Linked DNA regions of Homo sapiens. The protein of the gene in region 3 interacts with the protein of the main gene of each other region in a pairwise test. Each region holds a gene or a part of one and is shown on either strand. Other genes may lie near its edges.

What was found. The genes of interacting proteins can lie anywhere in the genome.
Region 1: the proteins of DAGLB (region 3) and NOTCH2NLC interact in binary tests that used the Homo sapiens proteins (3 or more experiments, as listed by UniProt).
Region 2: the proteins of DAGLB (region 3) and NOTCH2NLA interact in a two-hybrid assay, tested with the Homo sapiens proteins (one large-scale study listed by BioGRID).

What each region holds. Positions count from the first base shown.
Region 1 is NC_000001.11:149,463,621-149,467,120, reverse strand, and holds part of NOTCH2NLC (notch homolog 2 N-terminal-like protein C), read right to left. Parts: coding exon 3,295-3,500; intron 3,045-3,294; coding exon 2,968-3,044; 3' UTR 1-2,967. UniProt on the Homo sapiens protein: Human-specific protein that promotes neural progenitor proliferation and evolutionary expansion of the brain neocortex by regulating the Notch signaling pathway.
Region 2 is NC_000001.11:146,156,022-146,159,521, reverse strand, and holds part of NOTCH2NLA (notch homolog 2 N-terminal-like protein A), read left to right. Parts: intron 1-2,706; coding exon 2,707-3,042; coding exon of another isoform or gene 3,043-3,230; exon of another isoform or gene 3,231-3,292; coding exon 3,293-3,369; 3' UTR 3,370-3,500.
Region 3 is NC_000007.14:6,423,955-6,427,454, forward strand, and holds part of DAGLB (diacylglycerol lipase-beta), read right to left. Parts: intron 2,161-3,500; coding exon 2,034-2,160; intron 882-2,033; coding exon 798-881; intron 1-797.

The sequences.
Region 1 (3,500 bases), on a different chromosome or scaffold from region 3:
CAATATATATTTGCGGGCCTAGTATATACTGGGCACTGTTTGTAGGTGTTTGGGTTACATCAGTAAACAAAAACAAAGATACTAGTTTTCATTCTGGAGAGGGTAAGAGGCAGTAGAATTTGGAAAAGACAGACAATAAACAATAGACATAATGAAGTAAATTATATAGTATAAATTATATAGTAAGAAGATAAGAGTTACAGAAAAAGAAAACAAAAAGTAGACCAGGGTTAGTAATTAAGGGGGTGGGGGACAGTTACAATTTTAAATAGGGTGGTTAGAGTAACCCTCAATTAGAAGTGCCAAGACGTGAAATGCAGTGGAAGCAACCATTTGAAAGTTGCAGAATACTTTAACAAGCTACTTTGCCTCCTGCTGACTTTGTTTCCCCATTTTTAGAACTGAAATAATAATTCTCATCAAATAAGGGTGCTATTTACATTGAGATAGTGACTATTACTATAAGTAACATTTTAGTCTCTTGACAAGCATGGGAAGCAATGGAATGAAGGGCAATGGAAGGAAGGGCACTGCATTATGAAAAGGACTTTTTAAAAGAAAACCATCTCTAGGCACTATTTCCCTTTGTGGAAATGAACTGAATATTTTCTGAACTCCACCTGGGACATACGAACAATGAGCATGAAATCTTACAAACTGTATAAATAACATTTATTCACAGTGTCACTGCATCATCTATTGTTTTGAATTCTCTTTAAATTTCCTTCTATATATTTATCCAAAGCTGAAGTCATCTGGTTTAGATTATGGGACCCTGAAAAGCAAGAACTAGTCTATGTAACTACTTTTAAACATCTGCACAATGCGATATATATATATATACCACACACACACACACACACACACACACACATATTGATATGTAACAAGTACTATTTGATTATAATTAGGAGTGTCTTGGTTTTCTTATAACATGAACATATATTTTTAACCCAAACAGCTTAAAGCATTTAACGAAAAGTTTTACACACCTACAAAGTGCTTTCAGGAAGCAGATGTGCAGTGCAATGTGGCGCAGTAAGATGCACAAAGCAAAGGCTTTGAAAATAAACTGCCTCGGTTTCAGGACCCAGCCTAACCACATATTAGCTGTACAACTTTGGGTGAATCACTTAACATCTCCAAACTTCAGTTACTTCATGTGGGAAGACTTGAAAAATAATACCTGGTCCCAAGATTTTTGTGTAATTGAGCTAATAAGCATGGAAGTACCTGGCACAGTTCCTGAGTCACCAAAAAAATGTTAGTTTTCTCTTCATCAAATCTCCCCATTCCCACCCCTCATGCTAATCTCCCCTCCCACACACACACACACCATCAGTGAGTAAATAAGTGTCTTGCGTTAAACTACAACCAGAGAATAAGAGACAGCCAAGATTTCCTTACTCTATTTCACTAGCCCTGGCAGCCTCTCAGCTGCGGAATCCTTGGTTATTTCCTTTCTCAAGGAGGAGATACTATTCTAGTTTGACAGATCCTTTCCTGGACACACTCTCAGAATTCCCTAAGGTTCTTATCGTGGCTAATGGATAACAATGCAGAGGCTATGGGAGTGAATAATCACTCTCTCTCAGCTAAAAACTTCCTTTATTGACTTCTCTAACTTCCCGTCAACATCTTGCTGCCAAATCAACCTCTTGTTCTAGGCAATTATTAAAAGCAATTTTCTTGAAACTGAAAAACACATTTAGCCTTCAACAATAAATCACACTAACATCAATTACTAGCCAATTAGATTACTAGAATATCAGACCCAGAGATATTTGCAGTGTTGAAATATTTTCAAAATAAAGTTGTTTACATTTCTATTTCTGTCTTTAATCCTTAAAATGCAAACAAATACAGGAGTGAAGACAGATGTATTTTAGTTATTTCTTCTACAAGATAAAGTGGATAGTAATATTATGTTAAGAAAATACTTATTTAGTATCTAGAATGATAGCATTATCTATTCTTTATTAAAAGAGAAACTAAAAGTAATATAATTAAATAGCTTGTTCTTGTGACTTAAATAATATAAAATTTTCATTTCAATTATGTGACAATGCTTTGTATAGCTGTATTCCAAATACACAGCATGGTGCCTAGAACATAGCAGGCAGTCAATACATTTTTACCAAATGAAATGAACAAATTACCAGTTGATTTTATACTGAGGACCAAACTATGACCTTTAATTCCTCCAAAATAAAACACACAATCCCATTATATGTGAACCATATCCACAATACCAGAATCTAAGATTCCCACTCTGAAAGAGTAACTAGAACAACTTCTTTTGGAGGCAATTCTGCTTACTTAGCACATTACTCCCCCCTACAGTTTTCCTTCTTTTGTTTTTGTACTAAGGATATTTGTATAAAAACAGGATCTTTGTTGCTTAGTAATTCATCTGCTTCAGCTGCTTGTATTCTGTTCCCAATCAAAATTCTTGGTTTTCAGCCTCCTCATCATTTTTATAAGGAGTTGAATGAATTGGCCAAGCTTGTTCCTTTCTCCCTCTCCATGGAACACCAGGCCCCAAGCTCCCCGACACTGCTCCTCTTTTTATTTCTATCTTTGGGTTGTGTGTGCACTCTAGAACACTTGTATCAGTGAAGAGTGTAACAAAGTATTGTGCCACGCATAGTCTCTCATATATCATCTATCAGCTCATCAAAAAGTGCTCACTGATTAACAGAGGATCCCCTCCTCAGTTTCAGAATTCTCTAGCTTTAAGTTAGGGGAGGGTTACCCCAAAGTCAGAGAGGGTACATGGGAGAGGGTTGTGAAGGCCAGTAGCCCAGAGAAAATCAAGGGCAGCTGGGTGCATTTAGGTGGATAAGAAAACAATGAATTACTCCATCAAAAGCAAAAGCACAAGCACATAGTAAAGTTGATCACCTACTGTTAATGTCAATTCAGTTTAAAGCACTTTATTAACCACACATACATATTTTCCAGTGTCTAATTCTCATCGTGTTCTTTTCCATTCCAGACTTCCCTGTCTCTTTCCCAGAGCTCTGTTCCTCTTCTCACTGTTTCTACAAAAGGGACAATAAACAATTTTCTAGCCACTCATCATCATAAACCCTGACATGCTAAATTATCCCCTGCTCAGTTTATGGACCACAGTGGGCCCATAAAACTCCTCCCTCACTAGCAACCCACCCCACACAAAATTCTCACTTCCCTTTTTCCTTGCGCTTCCTAAAAAAAGCAATTGAGCCACACCCACTACCTCCTGTGCTAGGGGTTTGTCCCCTAATCCTGGGACACTAGGGAGCTCCTTACCTGGAAGGCAGTTGCACTCAAAAGTGAAGTCACCAGTCTGCCGACAGGTGCCTCCATTGACACAAGGCGAGGGTGCACAGGGCACATACAGGCTGTCACAGTACTGGCCTGTGAAGCCCTGAAGGCACTGGCACTGGTAGGAACCAGGCAGGTTGAGGCAGGTGCCACCATGCTGGCAGTGTCCTGGAATGTCACACTCATTGACA
Region 2 (3,500 bases), on a different chromosome or scaffold from region 3:
ACATAATATATATGGAAACCAAATTCAGGGTTGATTCTTTCTTTCTTTCTCCCTTCCTTTCTTTCTTTCTTTCTCTTTCTTTCTTTCTTTCTTTCTTTCTTTCTTTCTTTCTTTCTTTCTTTCTTTCTCTCTCTTTCTCTCTTCCTCTCTCTTTCCCTCTCTCTTTCTGTCTTTCTTTCTTCTCACTCTGTTGCTTAGTACAGTGGCGCAGTCTCGGCTCACTGCAACCTCCACCTCTTGGGTTCGAGTGATTCTTGTGCCTCAGCCTCCCAGGTAGCTGGGATTACAGGCATGCGCTATGAAGCCCGGCTAATTTTTGTATTTTTAGAAAAGATGGCGTTTCACCGTGTTGGCCAGGCTGGTCTCAAACTCCTAACCACAAGTGATCTGCCCACCTCAGCCTCCCAAAGTGCTGGGATTACAGGCATCAGCCACCACTTCCGGCCCGGGGATCTTTCTGTTTCAGTTGTGGGCATCACTCTGAAAATCACACTTGCTAGAAGTGAGCATTTATATCTCTTCTCCACTGTAAATAAGTGCCTCTTAGTGACATGAGTGGAAAGACAAGAAGAATTGCAGTTCCTTCATTTTCTGTCTTAGCTCCCTGAGATGTATATGCTGTGCCTAAATTTGTGTTATAGTTTTCTCCTTTGATTTGACATTCCTTGATAGGCAGAGAGCACTTTTCTGTGCTCATATGTCACATCTCGCATCTTTTTCCCTTATAGAAAAACTCTTGTGTCTCCCATTTACCTTTCTATGAGGTCAGAGATTTAGATACTTTCCTAGACAATCAACTGGAGTATTAACAAATTCAAGGAGTTCTCGCCATCCCATTACTGGGTATATACCCAAAGAATTATAAATCGTGCTGCTATAAAGACACATGCACACGTATGTTTATTGCGGCACTATTCACAATAGCAAAGACTTGGAACCAACCCAAATGTCCATCAATGATAGACTGGATTAAGAAAATGTGGCACATATACACCATGGAATACTATTCAGCCATAAAAAAGGATGAGTTCATGTCCTTTGTAGGGACATGGATGAAGCTGGAAACCATCATTCTCAGCAAACTATTGCAAGGACAAAAAACTAAACACCGCATGTTCTCACTCATAGGTGGGAATTGAACAATGAGAACACTTGGACACAGGAAGGGGAACATCACAAACCGGGGCCTGTCGTGGGGTGGTGGGACGGGGGAGGGATAGCATTAGGAGATGTACCTAATGTAAATGACGAGTTAATGGGTGCAGCACACCAACATGGCACATATATACATATGTAACAAACCTGCATGTTGTGCACGTGTACCCTAGAACTTAAAGTATAATAATAATAATAATAAAAATTCAAGGAGTTCTTATCTCTGTAGTTTAAATAATAAGCGACTTAGACTAATGACAACAAAAAGCCAGCCATGTGAATACCAAATTTACTAGTTCTGTGAGGATATTTTTTTCTCTTTCTCTTTCTGCCTCAAAGAATCTGCTTTGCTTCCCCTGGCATCATGATTTAGTTTTCAACCCGTCAGAGTCTTCCTGCTAGTGCTGGTACTTTCCTACTTGAGAAAGTCCACGGAATACCTTCGAGACCTCTGTCCTCCTGATGGCTTCTATTTCATTTGTTATATAGGGACCCAGAGGTCCTTCATCATTTTCAAACACATCAACAGATATTTATAGCAAGGCCACAATTAATAAAATGTTTCCCAGAATATATGTGTGTGTTACATTTAGAGGAAACAGAAGTAGTATTGACTTGTTTCTATCACCAGAGGTCTATTTAGTAACTATATTTTGTGGAAAATATCGATATATTTTATCCATTCAACAGACATGATTTGAGAGCATACCACGGAGACCCAACCCTGCCAGTGTGGCAGGTGGTATAATAGAAGAAAATAGCAAACTTGGTGTATCTGTCTTTGCGCACATGTATGTATGTGAGGGGCACTAAGGATGACTTTACAGAGGTTGGAACTTTTGAGTAGAGTTGCCAAGATAGGGAGAGTTCACTAGGAAAACAGAAGGGAAGTTGATTTTTTTTTTTTTTTGAAATGGAGTCTTGCTGTGTCGCCCAGGCTGGAGTGCAGTGGTACAATCTCGGCTCACTGCAACCTCCGCCTCCTGGGTTCAAGTGATTCTTCTGCCTCAGCCTTCCAAGTAGCTGGGATTACAGGTGCGCGCCACCATGCCCAGCTAATTTTTGTATTTTTAGTAGAGACAGGGTTTCACCATATTGGCCGGGCTGGTCTTGAACTCCTTACCTCATGATCTGCCTGCCTCGGCCTTCCAAAGTGCTGGAATTACAGGTGTGAGCCACTGCTCCTGGCCCGGAAGTTGATATTCAAACAGGAGCAGCATATGCAAAGACAGTGAGCTCTGAGAGAGTAGATGGATCCAGACTCCTATTGCTGATAGCGTCCTGCAGGATTGGGCTTCAATGTGACTAACCTACAATTGCCTCCAGGTGCTCCACCCACTGAGTCCTTGTGTCTCTGCTGAGGTCCTTGGAGAGTTACTGGAGAGGGCTCTGTGTCAGATGACCTTGAGGAGGCTCTGATTTAGCCTTTTGTAAAATGCAAAGAGTTGAGGTCTTCTCCACGCAAGAGCTCGCTGATGTCAATGAGGTATTGAGGATGGGGCCATCTCCTATTTCTGTGGCCAGTACTGAGTTTTGTTATCCTTCCTTTAGGTAAGGAGTGCCAATGGACCGATGCCTGCCTGTCTCATCCCTGTGCAAATGGAAGTACCTGTACCACTGTGGCCAACCAGTTCTCCTGCAAATGCCTCACAGGCTTCACAGGGCAGAAGTGTGAGACTGATGTCAATGAGTGTGACATTCCAGGACACTGCCAGCATGGTGGCACCTGCCTCAACCTGCCTGGTTCCTACCAGTGCCAGTGCCTTCAGGGCTTCACAGGCCAGTACTGTGACAGCCTGTATGTGCCCTGTGCACCCTCGCCTTGTGTCAATGGAGGCACCTGTCGGCAGACTGGTGACTTCACTTTTGAGTGCAACTGCCTTCCAGGTAAGGAGCTCCCTAGTGTCCCAGGATTAGGGGACAAACCCCTAGCACAGGAGGTAGTGGGTGTGGCTCAATTGCTTTTTTTAGGAAGCGCAAGGAAAAAGGGAAGTGAGAATTTTGTGTGGGGTGGGTTGCTAGTGAGGGAGGAGTTTTATGGGCCCACTGTGGTCCATAAACTGAGCAGGGGATAATTTAGCATGTCAGGGTTTATGATGATGAGTGGCTAGAAAATTGTTTATTGTCCCTTTTGTAGAAACAGTGAGAAGAGGAACAGAGCTCTGGGAAAGAGACAGGGAAGTCTGGAATGGAAAAGAACACGATGAGAATTAGACACTGGAAAATATGTATGTGTGGTTAATAAAGTGCTTTAAACTGAATTGACATTAACAGTGGGTGATCAACTTTACTATGTGCTTGTGCTTTTGCTTTTGATGGAGTAATTCATTGTTTTCTTATCCACC
Region 3 (3,500 bases):
TGTGGCTTCTCTGGTGCCTCCCGGGAGACCCACAGATGGCTCCTGAAGATGCAAGTTTGGGGTCCTGGCCCTGGACTTAGGGGGGCTACCCCAGAGCCAGTCAGGAGCAGAAGAGGGCTGAGCACACAGGCTCTGGAGTCTCAACTCATTTTCTGGGTCAGCAGAGAAGAACGGGAAGTGAGACTGAGGAGTGGCCAGGAGGAAACCGGAATGGAGAGAAGAAAGCTTTGACAAGGAAAGCGTCACCTGGCATCTCCAAGGGGCCCAGGAGTATGGACTGAGGAAGACAGAAGAGGGGCCATGGGCTGGGGATGGATGTCGGCAGTCCTGACCTCACCTGGAGAACGGCAGGCCACGAGGGCCTGTGAGGATCCAAACCGGGAGCCTCCAGCGGGGCTGGTGGCCAGGGGCGTGACTCTCTGCAGCAAGACTGACTCACTGCCGCCATCTGGCTCTGGTGCAGAAATTCCCCGGGAGGGCTCCCGGGTGTGGGGCCTGGCTGGGCTCAGGGAAGTTAGGCAGGGAGGGGTCAAGCAGGTGCCCTCTGGGAGCTCCTGTGGCGGGGGGGCCAACCTGCTGGCCGCTCTGCTGCTGACAGTTCTCAGTGAAGATGAAACAGCTTCATCCCTTTTTGCAAAGGGAGTATTTCCCAACCCCAGGCTCACATCCTCATTTTCTGTCCTCACCATTTTCCCCTGTGTCTCATGCGGTTACTGACGGATTTCCCCAGCCGAGCAGCTGTGGGCTCCCGCTCCCGCACCCACTCCCAGGGCTGGAAAGTCAGGTTCCAACGTTACCTGCAGAGACATGGTCCCCCTCACAGCGACCACAACAGACTCTTTCCTGTGATCCAGAGCCACTAAAAACGGCAGCTCGTAAACCTGCAGGAGCAAGAAACAAGCATGGGGCCTAAACAGTGAACACACGCACCAGCACGCAAAGTCGGAGCCCTGCAGTGTCTGCAATGACAGCCCAAGTCCTGCGGCACAGAGAGGAGGGGACACCGCCTCTCCACTCACGCTCACTACACAGTGGGACCCACTCTGGCAGGGACTGGCCTTCATAAACCATGCTGCTCTACATGAAAAAGGATCTTTGTTTTCTTAGCCTCTCTCTGACCTCCCCAGAGATTCGGATTGAACTGGCCCAGGGTGCGGCCTGGACCTCAGCAGTGTTAAAAGCTCCTCAAGAGGTTCTACTGGGCAGCAAAGTGGGAGAGCCGCCGATCTGCGCCAGCAGGCCTCCCGCTGCGGTGCCTATGAGAATCACCTGGAGAGACAGCGAGCGACACTGAACACGCAGCACTGCAGCCATGCACAGCTGGCTTTTTTTTTTGAGATGGCATCTTGCTCTGTCACCTAGGCTGGAGTGCAATGGCGCAATCTCAACTCACTGTAACCTCCGCCTCCCGGATTCAAGTGATTCTCATGCCTCAGCCTCCCGACCAGCAGAGACTACAGGCGCCTGCCACCACGCCCAGCTAATTTTTGTATTTTTAGTAGAGATGGGGTTTCACCATATTGGCCAGGCTGGTCTCGAACTCCTGACCTTATGATCCACCCGCCTCGGCCTCTCAAAGTGCTGGGATTACAGGCGTGAGCCACTGTGCCCGGCCCACAGCTGGCTTTTGCAGCTTCTCCCAAGGTGACAGTGACCCCCCCAGAGTGCCAGACCTGCTACACTACACTACTGATGGCACTCACAACCCAGGACGACGATACGAATCCCAGAAGGCCATGCGGCATTAATACTGAGGGATTTCACTCCTCAACAGAAGGGCGAGGTAAGAAACACAGCGCGCTATCTCTGATGAAGACGTCTCTATCTTATGTGAAACCTGGGTTCTGAACCTGCACCAGGGCATCTGTGTGGCTCCCCCAGAGTCTGTGGCCCCTCTGAAATAGTACACAGGACTTAGAAGTGTGTTTGTGTGTCTATGAATTACGGGAAGAATAATTCATAACTTCCATCAGAATCTCTAACAGCTCCAGGACCCAAAAGAAGTGAAGAGCCGCTGTCTGCAGCGTCCACACCTTGTCATGGAAGCTGACGTGGATGAAGTCCCTGTACTGCAGCCCTGTGGTGTGCAGGATGGAGCCGAAGTGACAGTTGAGCTGATCGCCTCCGACCAAGTCATAGTCTGTGGTTCTGCTTCTGCAGCTAAAAAGAGGACAAAGACGTTACTATGCCGAACAGAGCCACTTGGCAAGGAACGTCCATCCTCACTGCCACATGTTCCCAGAGACGCGAGGACCAGAGCGGACAATTCTCAGGACTTAGCCTGGCTGACATGGAATGGCTTTTTAAAACTTAATTTGATCGACTGACTGATTGAGATGGAGCCTCACTCTGTCACCCAGGCTGGAGTACCGTGGTACAATCTCAGGTCACCGCAACCTCCGCCTCCCAGGTTCAGGCGATTCCCCTGCCTCAGCCTCCTGAGTAGCTGGGATTACATGCGTGCACCTCCATGCCCGGCTAGTTTTTGTATTTTCAGTACAGATAGAGTTTCGCCATGTTGGCCAGGATGGTTTTAAACTCCTGACCTCAGGCGAACTGCCCGTCTTGGCCTCCCAAAGTGCTGGGATTATAAGCGTGAGCCACTGCACTGGGCCCGGAATGGCTTATTAAAGATAATACCTCTCTGTGTACACTTCTTGGATAGAGTTCTGACTTCTGGCATCATGTTAATGATTTCTATATTCAAAAAATTCATCAACAAGGATGGGCAAGTCCCTAAAACTGAATGCCAACAGAAGCAGGTAAAGCAAACCTGTCCAAATGAACAGCACAGCCAACTCCGTAGAAAATAAACAAGAAATCATAGAAGTAACTTTTGAGTACTGTGCTCTACGTTTAAAAAACAAAAAGAGGCCGGGCGTGGTGGCTGATGCCTGTAATCCGGCACTCTGGGAGATCGAGGCAGGTGGATCACCTGAAGTCAGGAGTTCGAGACCAGTCTGGCCAACGTGCTGGAACCCCACCTCTACTAAAAATACAAAACTCAGCCAGGTGTGGTGGCAGGCGCCTGTAATCCCAGCTACTCGGGACGCTGAGGCAGGAGACTTGCTTGCAACTGGGAGGCAGAGGTTGCAGTGAACTGAGATCGCGCCACTGCACTCCAGCCTAGGTGACAGAGTGAGACTCCGTCTCAAAAAATACAATTAAATTAAATTAAAATAAATAAAAATAAAAACTAAAAAAACTACAAACACATCGCAAACTGTACTTAGCAGATGCCCTTTTTGTAGTGGAACTGGGTATAGCAATTCTGAAACTATTTTCTTAGTAATAGGGGACTGAGCATGGGTAACTCACGCTGATGTTGCTGGGAGCCAAGCTTCTCTTTGCAGACATGATGTGGAGAAGCAAAGAGAAACTCTGTGGCTTTGGACTAGAATTAAAAGATATCAGGGCCAGGAGACTGACACCCATGATGCCAGCACTTTGGGAGGCTGAGGCGGGAGGATCGCTCAAGTGTTGGAGACCAGCCTGGGCCA